Regions from separate parts of the Homo sapiens genome. Here region 2 is linked to region 1. Evidence: fine-mapped expression QTL. A gene starts in region 1. The other region holds a variant in brackets. All regions are shown on one strand. Distances are from middle to middle. Region 1 holds the start of LCN1 (lipocalin 1). Region 2 overlaps PIERCE1 (piercer of microtubule wall 1).

Region 1 (5,369 bases):
ATTTTGCCTTCAATATTTTATGAAAGTTGCACTGAGAATAACATTCACAGGTAAATGTGATTTCTCCCGGGTCTGTTAAAGACGTCACTCCACTGTCTTCCGGAAGGCAGCGTTGCTATTGAGAGGTCTGCCATCAGTCCACATCCGCTTTTATGGTATGTAGTGTGGCTCTTCTTTCTGGTCATTTTGACTTTTTTTCTCCTTTCCTGGATGATCTGCATTTCACTGTAATATTCTAGGAGTGGATTTCTCAATTTTGATCATTCCTTGGTAATTTAGATCTGGGGTGTCATCTTCATGTCTTTTCAATTCTGAAGAATTCTGAGCTATTCTGTTGCTTTGTTGCCATTTTAGAAAATGTTTTTCTTTCAGAACTCCTATTCTGTTTATATTGGAACCTCCTGATCTATTCTCCATGTGTGTTAACTTTGTGCATGTGTGTGCATGTGTGTATGTGTGTGAGTGTGCATGTGTGTGTGTATGTGTGCATGTATGTGCATGTATGTATGAATGAATGGTGTGTGCACGCGTGTATGTCTGCGTGTGTATGTGGGTGTGCATGTGTATGGGTTTGTGTGCATTTGTATGTGTGCACATGTGTGTGTGTGCATGTGTGTGTGCGTGTGTGTGCATGTGTGTGTGTATATCTCTGTGTGTTGTGTTTTCAGAGCTGCTGCACTCTAGTTGGTTTCCTCCACTCATTTTATTACTAGCTCCAGGCTGGAGACTGAATCTATCTGTAACACCTCAATTTCTCTTTTGAATTTTTCTGCTTTCATTGATTTTGTTAGTACTATCTTCCATGACACTAAGTCTCTTTTCTACTATGTCAAGTCTGGAATTTAACCTGTCTATTGAGTTTTTTATTCACTTTATTATTCATCTTCAAGATTTGTAATTATTTCTATTTCGTCTCTCCTTATTTCTTATATTCTGGCCAGTTCTAATTTTATACTTTATATATTTTTAAATCACTAGGCATCTTGATCATACTCCTGCAGTTTTAAAGTGTGTGTCAGACTTTCCTTGGCTGGTGTAAGTTCCTGTACCAATTGCTCATTTTTAGCCTGCCTTTCTTAGTGTGGTGTTTCCTTGGGTAATTTGGAACCTGGCCTTTCTAGCTTATTTCAAGGTGAGGATATTGTGTCTCTGCATTTCTGCCTTTCTCTGCCATCTTGTTGTCACTGTCCTCTGTCTAGCAGTGTTTTGTAGCCTCTGCTCCCATCCCGGGTCCCAGGCTTCTGCTCTGCAGTGATGCAGAGCATGTCACAGATAAAGTCATCCTTTCCAAGGACGGCTTGTCTCAGCTTCTGCCCTTGAGGCTGTGTTGATGTCCTCTTGCCTTCCTATGCCCACAGTGCTCCACTAAGTTATACGAAGTTACAGCCCTGGGATGTGTCAAGGAGGGTTTCTCAGCCTTCTTTCTGGAGTCAGGGAAGCCCCTCCCATCACTCCCAGGAGCCGGACCTAGGCCCTCTCTGCCTGCCTTGGGACTTGGAGCTGACAGGCCCCTGCCTCTGCCCCATCACCAGCCTGTGCTTCTCCTCCATTCCTTGTTTTATGTGAGTGTGTGTGCGTTTGTGCATGTATATATGTACACACATGCATACACACACACACACCTGTCTTGGTCTTCTGTCTGTCTGACCTATTGCTGCTCTGTGTGTGGAGCAGAGAGGGTCGTTACTGCACACCTTGCTCAGGACAGTGGACACCGTCTTTAAATGCACACGGGATCGTGTTCACACAGGAGGGTCCCTTTTTTTCCATGATGAATCTGAGGCCAAGTAACCTGCCCAGAGATGCAGGAAGCTCAGCTGAGCCCCAAGCCCACGGCCCTCGGACTCCAACCCCAAACCCCCTTGACAGTGTGCACGTCAGCAAGTGTGGGATGGCTGGGGGGCATCTGTTACGGCTGCACACGTCCCCAGGAGGCCTGCACACCCTTCACTCCCTTCAGTTTCCCTTCAGGTGAAATCTGCAAATCTGCTCCTCTGGACCTGGTCCTGTCCAAGTGATCCTCTGGGATTAACAAGCTGTTATTCACCAGCCTCCAACAATAATGGCAGGTTATCTGCTCCATTGCAGAACTGGCAGTGGTTTACATCCAGGAAGGGATTGGTCAGTCTCCTGTGCCAGGTCCCTGGGGGACCCTGAGCCCAGCGGTATAAAGGGCGGCTGTGGGAGGACTGGTACAGCCTCTCCCAGCCCCAGCAAGCGACCTGTCAGGCGGCCGTGGACTCAGACTCCGGAGATGAAGCCCCTGCTCCTGGCCGTCAGCCTTGGCCTCATTGCTGCCCTGCAGGCCCACCACCTCCTGGCCTCAGACGAGGAGATTCAGGATGTGAGGCCCGGATGGGAAGGCTGGGCTGGAGGGGGCAAGGGGCGAGGCTGAGACTGGATGGAGACCCCATGCCTCCTCCATCCAAGGAGACCCTCGTTTTTGGGTTGGGCATTCAAGCCCTGCCCTGAGGGAATGGTGGGATGGGGCAGCAGGGGTCTGGGCTGGCAGGGTAGGTGGCGCAGGGGTGCAGAGTGGGCAGGGCTGGGAGGGTGGGGGTCTGGCTGACTTCACTTCTTCCCTGGGGATGAGGGCTCCTGTGGTCCTGGCTGGCTTGTGGGGGCTGGAGCCACCTTCAAGTGGGCCTGGCGAGGGTGCTGGGTGTTTTCTGGGTGGGTTAGATTGGGGAACGTTCCCCGTTTCCAGCCCTCGGGGTGCGGTAGAGTCTAGGGGCTGCAGGCCAGGGAAGGGGGAGGCTCTGGAGCAGTCGGCCTGAGCCTGATAGAGAGGGGCCTTCTCCAGGTGTCAGGGACGTGGTATCTGAAGGCCATGACGGTGGACAGGGAGTTCCCTGAGATGAATCTGGAATCGGTGACACCCATGACCCTCACGACCCTGGAAGGGGGCAACCTGGAAGCCAAGGTCACCATGCTGTGAGTGTCTGCCAGCCGGCCGGGCAGCCTGCAACCTGGTCTAGGGCCTTCCCTTTCCCCACCCAGGAGAGCTCTGGTGCTGGGGAGGTGGGCAGACCTGCTGGGAGGCCTCTCTCGGCCCCTCCTGCAATGCTTGAGGGCAAACTGTGCCACTGAGGTGCCTCGGCTGGAGGGGCCCTGAGGGGGCAGAGGCCCCGGATCAGACCCTGTGGGCTACCAGTGGCAGCCCTGGGTACCGCCCACTTCCTCCTCCGACTAGGGAATGTCTGGTGACGTGCAGGCCCCTTTGGGAAAAGGTGTTTACCCCCGACCAGAGTCAGAGCCAGTCCTGGCAGTAAATTTCTGCTTTGGAGAAGTGCAGGGATGGGGCTTGCAGAATGACCAAGAGGGGGCATAGGAGAAGACACCATGGAGAAGACCCCCTTGAAATCCCTGTGTAGCGCTCACCTGTGCGGCTCTCACCTGGGCTGCTTCCACCCGCGTGGCTCACATCTGTGACTTCCCACCTGTGTGATTTCACCCGCATGGCTCCCTCCTGAGTGGCATGCAGTGCCTGTGCTCCGGTCCTGGGGGCTGAATCTCAGGAAGTCACTGACCCTGGCAATGACCCCGATTTTTTTTTCCCCCAAAGCCCCTCACTGAACCTTTCCCTCTCTGGGCCAGATGATGATGGATATGGGGCTTGTGCCTGAATGTCTCTAAAAGGAAGAATGCAGCTGGCGGGATGAGGCTCAGGCCCACGCCACAGACGCTGCCTGCAAACCAGGCAGCCTGGGTGCCTCTGGCAGGAAATGTGTTGGGGGCGGGGGGTTTGGGAAGGCAGCCACCAGGAGGAGCGGTGCAGAGCTCCTGGCCATCTCGGGAGACCCCGGGAACTGCCGCATGGGACCCGGAGGGGCCGCTGGTGCCTGGGTCTGAGATGCAGAGAAGCACCCTCCTCCATGGGCCTGTGGCAGACTCGGGGCCACATTTGCAGGGCATTGCAGCATGGTTGCTCCAGGGCCGGGGGAGGCACAGGCCAGGGCCGCTTTGCCAGGGGGCTTCTGTTTTCCAGGATAAGTGGCCGGTGCCAGGAGGTGAAGGCCGTCCTGGAGAAAACTGACGAGCCGGGAAAATACACGGCCGGTGAGTCCCGGGGCCTGAGCCAGAGCCTGAGCTTGAACACACGCTGGATGTGCGGGGGCAGCCAGTGCCTTTTTGGGGTGGCCTTTTGGCCTGGGAAGCCTTTTGCTGCCTTCTGACTCCACTAAAAGCCCACTCTCTTCTCCCACTGGTCAATTTGCATTAGAGACTTGAACACCTGACCCCAAACACCAGGTGTGGCAGGTTTGTCCCGGGGCGGACCCTCTGGGCTTGCCCTGTAGCCCTGGCTGTGGCTCTGGCAGGGCCAGGAGCAGAGTCGTATTTGGCTGCGGGGGGCTGTACCCCAACTCCCACCTCCGCAGACCTCATACCCGGAGGAACCCCCCGTGACTCACTGGTTTGGGATGTGGCCGCCTCTTGGGTACATCAGGTTCCTGGGAAGTGGGGGTCCCATGGCCTGGGGCTCAGGCCTGGTGGGGAACCTGGGTCAGGGAGCTCTGGGAGGCTGGGAGGGTGCAGGAGCTGCGGGGCTTGCTGGGCCTGGCAACGCACGCTGTCCCGGGATCCTCTCTGAAGTCCCTGGTGGCTAATTCAGGAATGTGCTGCTGTCTTTCTGCAGACGGGGGCAAGCACGTGGCATACATCATCAGGTCGCACGTGAAGGACCACTACATCTTTTACTGTGAGGGCGAGCTGCACGGGAAGCCGGTCCGAGGGGTGAAGCTCGTGGGTGGGTCCCGCACCCTCACCCTGCAACCCATGCCTCCACCTGCCCTCCCTCCTCCCTCGGCCTCCTGCACCCTCTTCCCCATGGGAGAAGCCACTGGGACCCAGGAACCCACTGCAGTTTTCTTAGGATGAGTTTTCCTGATAAAGGCCTCAATTCCCACCCCTGGAGTTCAGGATTTGGGATGCCCCGGCCTCGGTATCTGCAGCAGAGGCAGGAAGGAGCCACGGCTGCAGGCACAGGGGTTCAAAGGTCACACATGTCCCAGAGTGGGCCAGGCCCTCCCCCGGAGCAGCTCCCTGCAGTGTCATCCTTGAGCGCGTTCCTGTGGGGTGTCCAGCAGGAGAGAGGAACAGGGATGTGAGCAGAAGTCTGCATGGAAAGAACGTTCCAGCTCCCGGGGTTGAATTCCGGACGCGGTGCCTCCCACAGATGGTGACTCATCAGTGCTGTCCCTGTCAGAGGACGAGGCCCATGAAGGCTCCTGAGTTCTCCCTGGAGCCAGGGGTGTGCGAATGACAGAGGATTGGGATCCTGGTGCCCCCAAGGGGAGAGGCGCTTCCTCCAGGGTGGGCCTGTCGTGCCGTCCATCCTCACTCCGGGAGATGCTCAGGGATGGATGGAG
Region 2 (5,369 bases), 25 kb before region 1:
CCTAATTCGTGAGTAGAATCCCTGCAGGTAAGAATCTATTAACAAGATATTATTGATGGTGTGTAAGAGGAGTTTCTTTTTTCTAGTTTCAGTACTTTCTAAATTTCCTATAATGAACACATCTTGCTCTCATAGAGGGAAAAAAAATCCATGTCATAGACAAATTTTTTTTTATTGAAGACCCTGTAGCTCATAGTAAACATGGATTTATGACTACATAGAGATAAAAATCCACTTCATGTAGTTATTACCCCCCTTAGCAAAATACAGGTAATCCCCTGCCTTTTTTTTTACTTTTTATTGAAATTTTAAAATAAACATAGAGAATGCCCATGTCTGCATCATCCCCTTCCACAATGAAGGGCATTCACCAACCTTGTCTCTGCCCCTGTCCCTGCCCCTGCCCCTTGCTGGAGCATGAAGCACACAAACATGGTGGAGGAGGTTCATCTGCAACCCCATGTGCTCCTCCAGTAATCTCACACAGTAACGGCCCCTCCTGCCTGTTCAGCCTCGACTTGGCTGACGAGGCATCTGCTCCTCCTCCTGCCCAGCGCCTGGCCCTCGCCCACACCCCAGTGGGGCATCTCATGCCCTCGTGGGAACCCCGCAGTGTTTGTGCAGATCTCAGCCAGGGTGCTGGGTGCTTTAGGACGGGAGATCTGCTCCCTAACTGGTCTTGTGTGTAACATGGCTCCCAAATACAGACACGAGCGGAGTTAGCCACCAGCGCTCCCGATGCTCAGGCCAGGACTTGGGCCCCGGGAGCCCACAGCCCCACTCCACCATGACAAACGTCAGACGAGACGGAAGCTCAGGATGTGACAACGTTTTTAATGCAAAGTCAACCATTAGCATCTTTCCCATGTACTTATTAGATGTGAAATGGCAGGACTTCACGGCCCCGTTTGCATATTTTCCTACTCCGCAGACGAATAATATTTTCAGGGAAGGCAGCGCAGTCTGTGCCGTCACAATCGGGCGACTGTGGGTGATGAGGGATGATGATTTTCCAGGAGGCCCTGGGGTCAGAGGACTCCTAGAGGGAGTTTCCAGCCCCTCAATCGCAGATGGATGGCCTGTTGATGTTGTAACTGGGGTGGAAGTTGAGCCGGTCACAGGAGGTGATGCAGTTATCGGGGCCAGTCACGATGCTTTTCTCCAGGTAAACATTGAGAGTATTGTTCCGGAACATTCCACCCGCTGCAAGTTGTTGGGAAAATTTATTCGAATTTGGATAAAATACTTTCTATAAGAGATAAAGGAACACGGATTAATGACGTATAATACTCTTGAGCAATCCGTTGAATATTTTTGAAAGAAAAATAAGAATTCATAAGAAAATGCAGAGAAGCCAGAGTGGGTAGGATGGCCTGGCTCACCCCAGACCATCCTAATCCATGCCCGATGCCTGGCACTTGCTGTTAACACTGCCCCCGGCACTGTTCTAAGGATAGAAGAATGAGCTGTGGGGCCACCTGTGTGCCATCTCTACCTCAGGATGTGGCTGTGAGCATCGCCTTGGGGGTCAGTCCTGGAGTCACCCCCAGGTCTGCTTTTGCTCACTGTGCTACTCTGGGAAAGCTGCCAGCCCTCTCTGAACTTCAGTTTTCTCTTCTATGGAATAGAAATGATATCCATGTCAGTGGGTTTCAACCTTAACTGGGGCTGGGTGCGGTGGCTCACGCCTGTAATCCCAGCACTCTGGGAGGCTGAGGCAGGTGGATCGCCTCAGGTCAGGAGTTCGAGACCAGCCTGGCCAACATAGTGAAATGCCGTCTCTACTAAAAATACAAAAATATTAGCCAGGTGTGGTGGCGGGCGCATGTAATCCCAGCTACTCGGGAGGCTGAGGCAGGAGAATTGCTTGAACCGGGGAGGCGGAGCTTGCAGTGAGCCGAGATTGTGCCATTGCAGTCCTGCCTGGGCAACAAGAGCAAAACTCCATTGAGAAGGGGTGTGCTGAGGCCACTCGTGTGGGCGGGCACCCAGTGGTAGGAGTTATTCTAGCAAGACAGCATCATTAGGTGACTGTGACATTCCTGAAGCGAGTGGTCTGGACCTCCGCCAAATATTTTACCCCATACGGGTGACCTGTCCTTAGAGGATCCTGTGCCACGCACATCACCTGATGTTTCATCTCCTTGGCAAGAAACAAGTGCAAAGAGAAAACTTTTCTTTGTTTTTGAGAAGTTTTAGATCTATAGAAAAATTGAACAGAAAGTACGGAGAGTTCCCAAATTACCTCCCTCAGCAAACACAGTTCCCCCTGTCCTTAGCATGTCGCACTTGTGTAGCACACTTTTTACGGTGGAGCCAGTGTTGATACTTTATTAGTAACTAAAGTCTACATTCTATGGGTGGGACAAATGTATCATCACAGGGATCCGCCCATGCAGTATCATGGAGAGGAATTCCCTTCAGTGC[A/AT]TTTTTTTTTTTTTTTTTTTGAGATGGAGTTTTTGCTCTAGTCACCCACGCCGGCGTGCAATGGCGCCATCTCAGCTCACTGCAACCTTCGCCTCTGGGTTCAAGCAATTCTCCTGCCTCAGCCTCCCAAGCAGCTGGGATTACAGGCGCCCACCACTATGCCCGGCTACTTTTTGTATTTTTAGTAGAGACGGGGTTTCGCCATGTTGGCCAGGCTGGTCTCAAACTCCTGACCTCAGGTGATCCACCCGCCTCGGCCTCCCAAAGTGCTGGGATTACAGGCGTGAGCCACCACGCCCAGCCTTTCAGTGCACTTTTTAATGCAAAGCATTTATCTTCTATTCCCACATGGGAGGTAAACAGCTTCTCCGGCATCCACCCTTGGTCACGAAACTGGAAAAGAGACTCCAGACGGAGCAGGTGGATAAGAAGGAGGAGAACCTCCTTGGAAACTTGTCAGTAGTACCTCATGCCTCCTACCCCACTGCCTGCTCCCATCAGTGACCTGAAGGCTCCTACCATTTACAATAGGAACATTTTTTCATGGCCTTTTATAAAACCTAAAACATCTGGACCCATGTTAGTGAGTGTGCTGGGTTTTTTTTTCTTTTTTTTTTGGTTTTTGTTTGTTTGCTTGTTTGTTTTGGTAACAGGGTCTGGCTCTCACCCAGGGTGGAATGCAATGGCATGATCAAGGCTGACTGCAGCCTCAACCTCCTGGGCTCAAGCAATCCTCCACCCTCAGCCTCCTGAATAGCTGGGACTACAGGTGCATGCCACCACACCCAGCTAATTATTTTATTTTATTTTTACAGGGATGGGGGTCTCATTACGTTGCCCAGGCTGGTCTTGATCTCTGAGCCTCAAGTGATCCTCTCACCTCAGCCTCCCAAAGTGCTGGGATTACAGGCGTGAGCCACCGCATCCAGCTGTGTCTGGTCTTTTTCATAGAAATACCTGATCCCCAGGGAAAACTCAGGGTCGTCTGATTACGGGAGAGTGATTCTCAAATGCTCCAGCATTTTTAGATAAGTAATCTTCTCACAAGGGCTCAGTCACTCACGCCACACAACTAAATAAGCACTCACCAGACCTTTTCAGTGATGAATGCTTTGACAACGAAAATACGTCCACAACATTCTCACCCCAGAATGGCTGGCCCAGTGTCCCAGGTGTGCAGGAGACACCGCACTAGTCCCTCTGTCCATTCACCTGGACCTTCATGGGGTTTGGTGTGGGGAGGTTCTAGGAGGGCCATCCTGGAGCCTAAGGTCAAGCTCAAAAAGGGTTTGGCTTCCCCAATGGCCCACAGACTCCTGTGCCCACCAATACAACTTGCCCACCCACAAGCTGTGCCGTCAGCCAGTACTGCCTCTTCAGGTTACACGTTAACATCTCATAAAGTACAATTCCAAAAAAAAAGTAGCCCTTCATTTATTTGCCTCAGAACTGAGCACCGTAAGTTGCAGGAGATGGTTGCGTGTGTGTGTGTGAGACTGCTGTGCGTGTGGTTGGGTGTATGGGGGCAGGGTGATGTCAGCAAGTCTATATCCTCCTCTTTTAAAACACTCCACTCCCAAATTCATTCACTCATTTAGTTCCATCCTACCCTCTCCCAAAGCGATTTTGGGAACCTCCCTCCTCCCCATTTGTGATGCTGGAACTTTGGCCTCCTCCCTGGGTGCACCCCTCCCCGTCTCATTGTTGACCTGTTGAGAACCCCAGGTTTTTAGCCTCTTCTTGAGGCCACCCACCCCCTGCCCCCCATGCCCGGTCTTGCATCCCACTTACAGGCATCTCGTGCACGGTGGGGGCTCTGCTCCCGTAAGCCTGGTTACTGGTCCTGTACACGGAGACAGCCTTCTGGGTCCTGGTAGATGAGAAACACTCTATTTTCATTCATTTACTCTAATTCTGCACAAGCCACAGCCTTGTATTTGGTTGACGGCACTCCCCTGGAAATGCCCCCATGGAAAGAGCAATATGCCCGGGCTGGTGATGTGGCCTCGAAGGCAGCCTCTGGGAGTACCTGGCTGATGACCGTTCTGAATGGCCCGGCCTCCCCGGCCCCCTCTGCTTGCCACTGTCCCTGCTCTTCCAAGGCAGGCCAAAGCCCTAAAGAGCAGGCAGCCAGCAAGTGCTGATCCCCAGCCCTGGCAGGGCCTCGGCACATGCTGCAATTTCTGGGTAACCTAGCTTGTCAGGAGCGGAGGCTTGGCCTCCAGACCCTGCCACCCAGAGGGTCCCTCTGCCTCTGAGCCCCCACCCTCACTGAGGCTATGCTTCTACTGGTACCACTGCCCCTACCTGTCAGTAGGACAGGCTACTGAGAGGCTGCAGGCCCACGACATAGCTTTACTTTATACTCCTAGATCTTGGCCAAGTTGTTCCTTCTACATCCCAGTCATCTCAATGCGAGAATGAGGATACTAACAGACCCTGCCCTAGAGGACTGTTGAGGGACCAAATGTGTGATGAGCACGGCAAGATGTTTGCACCTGCCTACAGGAATTGAGTTTCTTACTACTTCTTAGCCTGCAATGCCCTGTGGCAGCTCAGAGCTGGCTGAGTCTACAGCAAGACAGTGGAGGTGCTGCTGTGCTCACGCCCCGCAGCGGAGTTTCAGGGTAGAGAGGAGAGGAGACTCACCCGACACAAATCAGTGGAGCTGAGACCACAACTGGGCTTTCTCCCCCCACGGCCCTGCCCCCCACTGCCCTTATCCCCACTTCCTTGTATGAGGCTCTAGGGAGCACGGTCGCCGCTCACTGGCGGGCGATGACAGCGCGGGCCCCGGATGACCACTCGATCTTCTTGATTTCTGTAGCTAGGACCTTGGGGGTCTTGCGGGGTCTCTCACACACGGGGCTATCGAGCAGTGGACGCCAGGACCAGGCGGGCCCCAGCTTCCTCACCTGTAGCCCCGGAACCACCCCGGGTTG

Evidence for each region.
Region 2: its variant is fine-mapped to the expression of LCN1 in prefrontal cortex (ROSMAP, PIP 0.95).

Annotation. Positions count from the first base shown.
Region 1 is chr9:135,519,244-135,524,612 of GRCh38, forward strand. It overlaps LCN1 (lipocalin 1), which reads left to right and starts at 2,197. Exons shown (of 7, transcript NM_002297.4): 1 at 2,197-2,344; 2 at 2,804-2,934; 3 at 3,989-4,059; 4 at 4,637-4,747. The coding sequence starts at 2,255. RefSeq lists an enhancer at 5,062-5,369.
Region 2 is chr9:135,494,367-135,499,735 of GRCh38, forward strand. PIERCE1 (piercer of microtubule wall 1) reads right to left here. Exons shown (of 3, transcript NM_001048265.2): 1 at 5,343-5,369; 2 at 4,219-4,297; 3 at 815-1,249. The coding sequence ends at 1,061. Among named protein-coding and RNA genes, the nearest start is that of PIERCE1, 2.8 kb to the right of the region's middle. The variant A/AT (reference allele first, on the strand shown) is at 2,428.